Regions from separate parts of the Homo sapiens genome. Here region 2 is linked to region 1. Evidence: fine-mapped expression QTL. A gene starts in region 1. The other region holds a variant in brackets. All regions are shown on one strand. Distances are from middle to middle. Region 1 holds the start of TRIM9 (tripartite motif containing 9). Region 2 has its middle 24 kb from the start of PYGL.

Region 1 (5,376 bases):
GGAATAATTGTGCCTACCTCTTCTTGTAATTACAGGGATTTAACCAAGTAATGTATACAAATAAATAAATCCCCTGTTTGGAACAGGGTGAACTCTCAACAAATGAGTCATTTTAAGAGCTCTCCTAGGATTGACTGATTTAGCTAATTCCTAAACAAACAGATCTAACAATGAAATCATCTCAAGCGACTTCATAATAGACCAAATCTTTCTATATTGACTATATTATAAACCTGTGTTGTTCTTTTTGCGAACCCAACACTGCATTACACCATGAGACATCCTCTAAAATTCTTCTTTACTTTGAACTAAGCATAAACTTTCTGCTAATAAGATCTCTTAGATGATATACTATTATAAGCAGAGTTCAAACTCATACAAAGTGTAACAGCTGCTCACCTTGCTGGTCCAAGATATTGTGACTTGTGGTCAAATGCATACAAAAGCCATAAAAGGACACTCCTTTCTAATATTTTCTCAATAATTAACTTTCATTACAATTCAATTAATACTATATTGAATATAATTATTAGTAATTTCTCTTGGGACCTATAAATTAAGTGTATCCTGCAAGTGCAGCTAATGTCCCAACCATACCTGAAGAAATTTTATCTATGTCTGTAAACAGAGTGCATATACCTTTGGATGCTCTGGTCTCAACTAGTTGAAAGCCAGCTTAAAAATAAATCACGTCACATTTATGATTAACATGGCTTTAAATAACAATGGGGACTTTATTCCCCCACACAATGATCAACTACTGTTCTCACTGCAACTAAAGATGTTGAAAAGATAACCTAGTTTATTGGACAATTTCTACAAGGGCAGTGTAATAAAATGTCCATTTTTTTTCTGGACAATAAAGTACTTTTAAATTATCAACATAGCTGCATATAATCAAGTTATCTCCTGTCTGGAAGGTGGAAAATTGGAATATTTCTAGAACTTGCAAAGAGTTTTTGTCCTTTACTTCATGAATCATTCAGCAAAAGCCGGCTATGTACTATTTCAAATGTTACTACCTCAGAATGTCACTTGACTCAAAGATTTTCCTTTCCTTTTCTTCTTCCTCCCTCCCTTTCTTCCCTTCCTTCCGCCTTTCCTTTCCCCCCCCCTTCCTTCCTCCCTCTCTCCCTCTTTCCCTTCTTCCCTCCCTCCCTCCCTCCTTGTACAGGGACTAACACTAGAATCACCGCCTCACCATGCCCCTCGTTGGAAGAAACAGAAAGGCACACGATGCTGTAAGCTATGGCAGATGCCCAGGGCACGTGGGGTTGAATAATGCTGTTTGGAGTGAAACACTGAGACTCCGCAGTCACACAGTGATTCATTTACAGAGCTTTACTAAACTACGGGCACTCAGAAATAGACAAACTGTTCTTGCCTCAACCGAACCAAAGGCCCAGCGGGCCTCGAAAAAGCTCAGCCAGGTGCTTTGGGAGGCCGCGAGGAGGAAGAAGGATCCGTGGAAGGAAGCACGTTCACACCACGGCACTGAGGCCTCTGGGCCGAGCTATAATTTAAAGCATGAAACGAAGGGGTCATAGATTCTGACTAATGCTGACCATTTCCATCGGTTACCCAGTTGAATCTCATGTCGACACTAGGAAATCGACTTTATACATGCTCTTTAGGAAACGAGGGACGCAGGATGAAAGAAGCCAAGAGTGTCGCCAGGGCTTGCGCCAGCGCCGTCAGACTCCCGGGATGGGGGAGCTCCAGGGCACGGCGTCAGCGGATTCACGGAGAAGGAGAAAAGCCCCACTGCCGTGCAGAAGCCTAGGCCCGGGTGAGACGCCTGCGAAGGCTGCCAGCAGCGGAAGAGAAGGGGCGTCCTCCGTGCTGCGCAGCACTCGCCCGCGGTAGGTGGGCGCGGAGCTCAGAGCTGGGAGCCAAACGCAAACGCTGGCGAGAAGCCCCAGCCCCCTCCGGCAGCCCACTCGCTGCGGGGAGGGGTTTCTCACGCCCCCAGCTCCTGGGAGACTGCACCGGAGGTCGGAAGTAAGCCGGGCGAGGATGAATCATCCCGCCTAACTCCTCCTTCCCGGTCCCCTAGCCTCCGCACGCCGGCCCCCTTCAGAGATCTTGCAGCCGCGAGCGAAGACTGCCCTATCCTCAGACTCTACCGAACCCCCTGTGGCCTGCGGAGACGAGGAGACGGACGGGTCTGGTGGCCAATGAGAGCTTCGATCTCTTGCCCCCCGCCCAATGGGCCGCTGCTCATGGGCCGGGGCGGGACTAGGAGGGCAGGTAGGGGCGGTCCGGGCTGGCGCGCGGCGCGGCGGCTACGCGGCTGCGGCTCACAGAGCTAGCGCCTCTCTGGGTGTCCGTGCCAGTGCTGCGCGGGAAGGCACCACCACCACAGCCGCCGCCGCTGGCCAGGGTGCTGGACAAGACGGGCCCGTCGGCCACCTCGCCAGCTCAGGCACCCGCTGCAGCCGTCGCTGTCTCCTCCCAGACCGGTCCCCATGGAGGAGATGGAAGAGGAGTTGAAATGCCCCGTGTGCGGCTCCTTCTATCGGGAGCCCATCATCCTGCCCTGCTCTCACAATTTGTGTCAGGCGTGCGCCCGCAACATCCTGGTGCAGACCCCAGAGTCTGAATCCCCCCAGAGCCATCGGGCCGCGGGCTCCGGGGTCTCCGACTATGACTATCTGGACCTGGACAAGATGAGCCTATACAGCGAGGCGGACAGCGGCTATGGCTCCTACGGGGGGTTCGCCAGCGCCCCCACTACCCCGTGCCAGAAGTCCCCCAACGGCGTCCGCGTGTTTCCCCCGGCTATGCCGCCACCGGCCACCCACTTGTCACCGGCCCTGGCCCCGGTGCCCCGCAACTCCTGTATCACCTGCCCCCAGTGTCACCGCAGCCTCATCCTGGATGACCGGGGGCTCCGCGGCTTCCCCAAGAATCGCGTACTGGAAGGGGTAATTGACCGCTACCAGCAGAGCAAAGCCGCGGCCCTCAAGTGCCAGCTCTGCGAGAAGGCGCCCAAGGAAGCCACCGTCATGTGCGAACAGTGCGATGTCTTCTACTGCGATCCGTGCCGCCTGCGCTGCCACCCGCCCCGGGGGCCCCTAGCCAAGCACCGCCTGGTGCCCCCGGCCCAGGGTCGTGTGAGCCGGAGGCTGAGCCCACGCAAGGTCTCCACCTGCACAGACCACGAGCTGGAGAACCACAGCATGTACTGCGTGCAATGCAAGATGCCCGTGTGCTACCAGTGCTTGGAGGAGGGCAAACACTCCAGCCACGAAGTCAAGGCTCTGGGGGCCATGTGGAAACTACATAAGGTGAGTCCTAAGAAAACCCACTCCTAACTCCCTGCGTCTCCGATCATCCGGTTTTGCAGCAGACGGTCCCCGTCTCTTGCGCACAGCGCATCCCAGTGGGGGCGCAATGCAGGTGCCTTCGATGTTTACCTCCCTGGTCTGGTGCATTGCAGGAGGCATGGGGGAATCTTAACCGGCGCACGGGGGAGTTGAATGCCCCCACAGAGTTGTTGCGGGGATGCCTTAGAGCGGGTCTCTCGGGGCGCGCTGCCTGCGAGCGGGACTCAGGGCGCCCCCTTTCCGCGGCGGGTCTGCAGCCAGTGGCCGCGGCCAGTGTGTGGGAAAGCACTGCATAGCTGGGTAGAGCCGCGCCAGTGCCCAGGGCCGCTAGGCACGCTCGAGGGCAGGGCGGGCTGCGAACCCTCGGGGAGGGACTGGGATGGGGGCGGTGGGGTCGCGCGGACGGCGGGAGTCTGTCGCTGCTGGATAGGCGGACCTGGTGAGGCACGGCGGAGGGTCGGGGAGACGCCGCAGGCGGAATACTGATGAGCCCGGCTCTGGGCCAGACCTGGCTCTCGAGCTGGAGAGAACGCGGGGTCCTGGTGCCACGTGCTCAAAAGACAGAGCGGAGAGGGCAGCCAGCGGTCGCCATGGCAACGCGACGTGCAGGCTTGGGCCTGAACCCTTCCGGAGTTGGGACCTGAGACTAGAGTGTCAGGACCGGAGTTTGCGCAGTCGCGGCCTGGAAGCCAGACAGGTGCATCTCCTAGGGAAACCTTCTCCTCCCAACTATACACACACCCACTTCTCCGGAATTCAAGCCCTTTCCTCTTTCAGTAGTTATATGTGCAAACTTTGGGACACCTGTTACCAGATTTATCTTTCCAGTCTCTTTTGATGATATTTCCACCATGGCTAGACACGAAGAGGCTTTAGCAACATATTCTGTCGTGCCACTCCTCTGCTCAAAACCCTCCAATTTTTCCCACGCTTCTCAGCCTGTCCTACATGACCTCTTCCATTTTGGCCCCTTCGACCTCATTGCCTCCCACTTACTCCCTCTGCTCCAGCCACACTGCTTCTTACTGTTCCTCAAACGACGCCAGGCACCTCCCTACTCCAGGGCCTTTGCATTTGGTGTTCATTCAGCCTGAAGCTCTCTTCCCCAGTTACCTGAGATCCGAATGGGTCACTTACCTGCATCCTTCAGCTCTTTGCTCAGGTATCATCTTTGCAGCGCCACCCACCCAGACACCCGCTAGTTCCCTCTCAGCTTTATTTTCCTCAGTAGTATTTATCCCTGTGTGGCATGCTATATATTTTAATTATGTTATTTTTTGTATTTATCTATTGCTCCCTGTACACACACAGACATAAACGAAATAAGCCTCATGAGGAAGAAGATCCTTATAATATGCCCACACTGCTTAGAAGGAAGGGAGCAACTCTTGAGGAGATGTGCATGAATTTGCTTTTCATTTTTTAAATGATCCATTTAGTTGGGGCTGTGGAGTGCAGGGCAGGGATTCAGGATGGTTGGAAGGAGCTTTTCTTTACATCACTGAGTTGCATACCCAAGGATGAGATGGAGCAGTGAAGATAGTGTCCAGGCCTCAGCTGTGGCCTTGCTCAGAGTCTCCCAGAATTCCTTGGAGACTAGAAAGGGTAGCTTTTGCAAGTGGCCAACTGTGGAGTTAAGGCTGGAACATTGATATTTTGTTTACAGCAAGAAAAAAATGTCATTAATTTTCAGCAATCAGTGAAAGTTTTCTCAACTCCTTAACCCGGTTGAATGTGATCCATGTTTACAGTCATTCTATTCTCACATATAACCTATTAAATCATATTAGTACTGATGGGGATTTCATTTAGCACAAATTGAAGCCTAACTGGGCACACACCACTGTTTTCAGAACAGTCGAATTTAAATTTTTGAAAATGACATTTAATTTTGAAAGTTTTCAAAACTTGAGTTCACAGCTAGTTTTTTATTCATATTTTGATTTCACTTTTAAACTGCTAATTATAGTCCATGTTGAATTGCCCTACAAAGTATCCTTGGAACTAAAAAATTAATCACTCTGTCAGGAAAAAGAATTTAGAGCCA
Region 2 (5,376 bases), 130 kb after region 1:
AAATTTCTGAGGTCCAGCCAAACCTCCATGCCACTATCAAATTCCACATCTTCAAGATTTCAAGTCAGACCAAGAATTAACACATATGCTGAGGCTAAGCTAGCTATCATCCTAGCTAAGGGGACACTTTGCTTTGATATTAAGAGAATCTGAGCATCTGCTCTCCTTGCCTTAGGGATGGGGAAAGCGAGAATCCCAAGGAATCAGATGAAACACTGAGTCTATTTTTTTTTTTTGAGACGCAGTTTCGCTCTTGTTGCCCAGGCTGGAGTGTAATGGCATGATCTCGGTTCACCGCAACCTCTGTCTCCCAGGTTCAAGCGATTCTCCTGCTTCAGCCTCCCAAGTAGCTGGGACTACAGGCATGTGCCACCAAGCCCAGCTAATTTTGCATTTTTAGTAGGGACGGGTTTTCTCCATGTTGGTCAGGCTGACCTCAAACTCCAAGGGGAGTTGGGATGTGAAATCAGGGGCCCAAAAGAGTACAGGATACAAGGGTGCACCCAGTGACCAGGAGATTCACACGCATCACACACCATGCTTTTTGTTTTGTTTCCCTTTTTTCCTTTTTTTTTTCCTTTATGCATCAAGCTTCATTTCTAAGCTCTTGCCAGGTGTCTGGCAGTAACCAAAGGAAGCTTTATAATACATGGGGTGCACTCCTAGTAAACAATGTCAAAGACACTGTAAAAGGAGAACAACTAAGGAACATCAGTTGTCCCACAAAATTGATCTGACCCAATATGATATTTTTCATGGTCTGAATCCTTCTAGGGCTAGACTAATAATAGCAATTACAATTTTCTTATTTCTCAGATGCAAGGGTTGTGTTTTGTGTTTCTGTTTTGAGAGACAAGGTCTCACATTGTCACTCAGGTTGGCACGCAGTGGCATGATCATAGTTCACTGCAGCCTCAAACTTCTGGGCTCAAGGGATCCTCCTGACTCAGCCTCTTGAGCAGCTGGGACTACAGGCACATACCACCACTACTGGCTAATTTTAAAATTTTTTGTAGGGATGGAATCTTGCTATGTTGCCCAGTCTGGTCTTGAACTCCTGGTCTCAAGGGATCTTCCTGCCTCGGGCTTCCAAAATGCTGGGATTAAAGGCGTGAACCACCAGACCCAGCTGGTTTTTTTGTTTTGTTTTTTACACCTTAACATCTCTCAAATCAAGACACATCTTACAACACATGTCAAAAGAAACTCTTTAGGCTGGGAGCGGTGGTGGCTCACGCCTGTAATCTCAGCACTTTGGGAGGCCAAGGCGGGTGGATCACTTGAGGTCAGGAGTTCGAGACCAGCCTAGCCAACATGGTGAAACCCCCCGTCTCTACTAAAAATACAAAAATTAGCCGAGTGTGATGGTGCATGCCTGTAATCCCAGCTACTCAGAAGGCTGAGGCGGGAGAATCGCTTGAATCCGGGAGGTGGAGATTGCAGTGAGCTGAGATTGTGCCACTGCACTCCAGCCTGGTGACAAAGCGAGACTCTGTCGCAGAAAAAAAAAAAAAGAAAGAAAGACACTCTTCAGCCATTGATAGAGTGGTGGTTCTCAGCCTCCACTGCACACTGAAATCATCTGGGGAACTTTAAGAATACTGATGCTGCCGGGTGCGGTGGCTCACGCCTGTTATCCCAGCACTTTGGGAGGCCGAGGAGGGCGGATCACGAGGTCAGGAGATCGAGACCATCCTGGCTAACACAGTGAAACCCTGTCTCTACTAAAAATACAAAAAAAATTAGCCGGGCGTGGTGGCGGGCACCTGTAGTCCCAGCTACTCCGGAGGCTGAGGCAGGAGAATGGCGTGAACCCGGGAGGCGGAGCTTGCAGTGAGCCGAGATCGCGCCACCGCACTCCAGCCTAGACGACAGAGCGAGATTCCGTCTCAAAAAAAAATAAAGAAAGAAAGAATACTGATGCCAGGTTACTAATTTAGTTGGTCTAAGATGCAGCCTGAGAATCTGGAATTTGTAAGGTGATTCTAATGTGTGTCTAGAGCTGACAGCCCAGAGGTAAGGAATGAGTGGGTAGTGTATACTCAGCAAAGTTTTTATTGCCTACACATTTGGAAAAACAATAAGATGGGGGGCATCATCTTATAACCAACAAAGTGGATCCCTCAAAACATGAAGTCTTTCCATGTTCAGTGTCATGAAGCCAATACACAAAACTAAAATTGTCAAGTAGAGCAGGCTTTATTCAATGGCCATGGAATTAAGAAGTGGAAGCATGGCTCACAAATCAACTTCTTGACCAGTGAGGGGTGAGGGGTGCAAATAAAGAGTTTCTCTAACGAAGAGGATGGACATTAAAAATGAAAAGAGGGGCCGGGCACGGTGGCTCACACCTGTAATCCCAGCACTTTGGGAGGCCAAGGTGGATGGATCACGAGGTCAGGAGTTCAAGACCAGCCTGGCCAATATGGTGAAACCCCTTCTCTACTAAAAACACAAAAATTAGCTGGGTGTGGTGGCACGCACCTGTAATCCCAGCTACTTGGGAGGCTGAGGTAGAAGAATCACTTGAACCTGGGAGGCGGAGGTTGCAGGGAGCCCAGATGGCACCACTGCACTCCAGCCTGGGTAACAGAGCAAGACTCTGTCTCAAAAAAAAAAAGAAAGGAAAATGAAAAGAGGAAGACTCAGGTCTTTTCTGGAAAGGGTCAGTGAACTTCCCAGAACTGGAGTGATGCCTTCCTCCTTTTTTGTCCTTTTATAGCTTCTTCTGGTCATTGTCCTAGCAATTGTCCACTGTTATGGTGATGGTCAGAGTGTCATTTAGCATGGAAATGAGATTATAATGAAGCCCGAGTTCTTTCTGAA[G/T]TCATTTGCTCAGCTATTTTGGTTCTAACCAGTCTCAACTGTTCCGGTTACAAAGGGAACTTTTTATTGCAGGCATCCTGTTTCTTAAAGCAGTGTTAGGGCAGAGCAGAAATTCAGCTATGTCACAGAGGCATTACACCAGCTAACAATTTCATCATTCTGTTACTTGTTATTTCCTTTGAAAGTTGATAAACTTAAATTCACATCTTAATTATCACTTAAAAGGTCTTTTAAAAGATCCCATTATAATGCAGTATAGAAATGAAAAAATATATTGTACATGCATAAAATTAATAATCATTCACTGGATAATATACAATTGAAATAGTCATACACTGGATAATATAATTAATAAAATTGTCAAGATGCTGAGAACAAATCACAAATTTTTGAAATCTAGGAAAAGTTTTTGGGACCAACTGATATGTGAAGAGCTATCATTCAGATGTCTAAATCTGTCAAAAGCTTCCAGCTACTTCCCAGAAGCTCTTTATTTCCTATTATTTATAATTCAGTTAACAGTAGCAATACAAACAAAATAGCCAAAAGAGAAATGCAAAAAAAAAAAAAAAAAGAAAAGAAAGAAAGAAAAAAACACACACATAATCCCACTGCATTCTTTAAATTATTCTGCAGCCTCACAAATATGCTAGCAAGGTCCAGATCTCGTGCAAGGGTAATCATTACATTACGTATAACTGCCAGTGGCCCTGCTTGATACAGAGGTACTTGGGGACCGAATTGTGTTTGTTAGTCTGAAGAGCAAAGTAGCATGTATTGTGGCAGATAATGCATGCTATTGTAAGTAGAGTTTTCCCAAGTGGTATATATTAAATGTTGAACTTGGCTTTGGTTTTCTCCAAAACAGTTCCATTTTTTTTTTTTTTTTTTTTTGAGACAGAGTTTCACTCTTATTGCCCAGGCTGAAGTGCAGTGGTGCGATCTTGGCTCACTGCAACCTCCACCTCCCGGGTCCAAGCAATTATCCTGCCTCAGCCTCCTGAGTAGCTGGGACTACAGGCACACGCCACCATGCCAGGCTAATTTTTGTATTTTTAGTAGAGACGGGGTTTCACCATGTTGGCCAGGCTGGTCTTGAACTCTTGACCTCAGGTGATCCGCCTGCCTCGGTCTCCCAAAGTTCTGGGATTACAGGCGTGAGCCACCATGCCCGGCCAAAAGAGCTACTATTAAGCCAGTAGTGCATCATACAATCTCTAACTAGAACTTCTTACAATTGAGAAATCCAATCACTCATCATATCCGCAGGTTCCACATGGGTGCATTGAAACAAGCTTGGGTTGAAAATGCTGGGAAGGAAATTAAAAAAACAAGAAAAATAATACAAATAAAAGGAATACAGCATAACAACTATTTACAAAGCATTTACATTGCATTAGGTATTATAAGTAATCTAGAGATTTAAAGTATATAGGAGGATTTGCATATGTTACATGCAAATGCTACACCATTTTATATCAGAGACTTAACTATCTGTGAATTTTGGTATCCCAGGGGTGTCCTGAAACCAAGGCTTCACGGATATGGAGAGACAACCGTGCTCTAATAATGTAAGTTGCCAAATATTGAATCTTATTGTTTTCCAGGCAATGTACCAAGGGCTTTTAGTGAATCATCTTACTTACCCTTCATCTTACTTATGCATTTTTATTATTACCATTTTAGAAATGAAGAAACTGAAGCACAAGAGGTTAAGCAACTTGCCCAAAGTCACACAGTATACAAGTATGACAGCCAGGGTTTGAACCCAAATAGTCTGACTCCAAGACACAGGCTCTTAACCTGTAGGTTATATGACATATGATTGCTACACATAGGATGTACCACAGACAACACACTCATTCATACGATTAATATTTAATGAGCACCTATTAAGTGATAAATGCTGTTGTAACAATGCTATTACTGGGAATACCAGTGAATAAAATAGACAAGGTCCCTACGTTCTTAGAGCTGATATTCAAATAGGGAAATAATAAGTAAAGATCAAAATCATTTTAAGTCTTAATAAATACAACACAGGAAATCCAACAGGCTATGAGATAGAGAGATATGGAAAAGTCAGCAATTACCTCTCTGAAGGGGTTATATTTGGGTTGAAGAAGCCAAGACCAAGGGAAGGGGTAAAGGCCTTGAGGCGGGAACAAGCCCAGTAAGTCAAAGAGTTAGTGAGGGTGAGGTGCATGCAGTGAGAGGAAGGAGGGTGGAGAGCCCAGCCTGCTGAGGTTATATGAAAATGCTACACCATTTTATATCAGGGACTTGAGTATCTGTGAATTTCAGTATCTCAGGGAGGTCCTGGAACCAATGCCCCCGCAGACACTGAGGGACCACTGCAGGGAGGCCCTGCCAGGCAGGTGTGCCAGATAGGAATCTTTGGCTACAAAAACACCCAACCTGACTGTGGCTGACCTAAAGGCATAGAAGGAATATGCGAGAAAGACATGGGGCAGCTCAGAAAGATGGGAACGAGGGCAGCTCTGGGGATCAAGGTAGCAGGAACTGATGAATATCGGGTCTTATCAGAGA

What was found.
Region 2: its variant is fine-mapped to the expression of TRIM9 in whole blood (TOPMed, PIP above 0.99).

Annotation. Positions count from the first base shown.
Region 1 is chr14:51,092,032-51,097,407 of GRCh38, reverse strand. TRIM9 (tripartite motif containing 9) reads left to right here and starts at 2,303. Exons shown (of 13, transcript NM_001387360.1): 1 at 2,303-3,290. The coding sequence starts at 2,469. RefSeq lists a silencer at 2,242-2,311.
Region 2 is chr14:50,965,432-50,970,807 of GRCh38, reverse strand. No RefSeq gene overlaps it. Among named protein-coding and RNA genes, the nearest start is that of PYGL, 24 kb to the right of the region's middle. The variant G/T (reference allele first, on the strand shown) is at 2,827.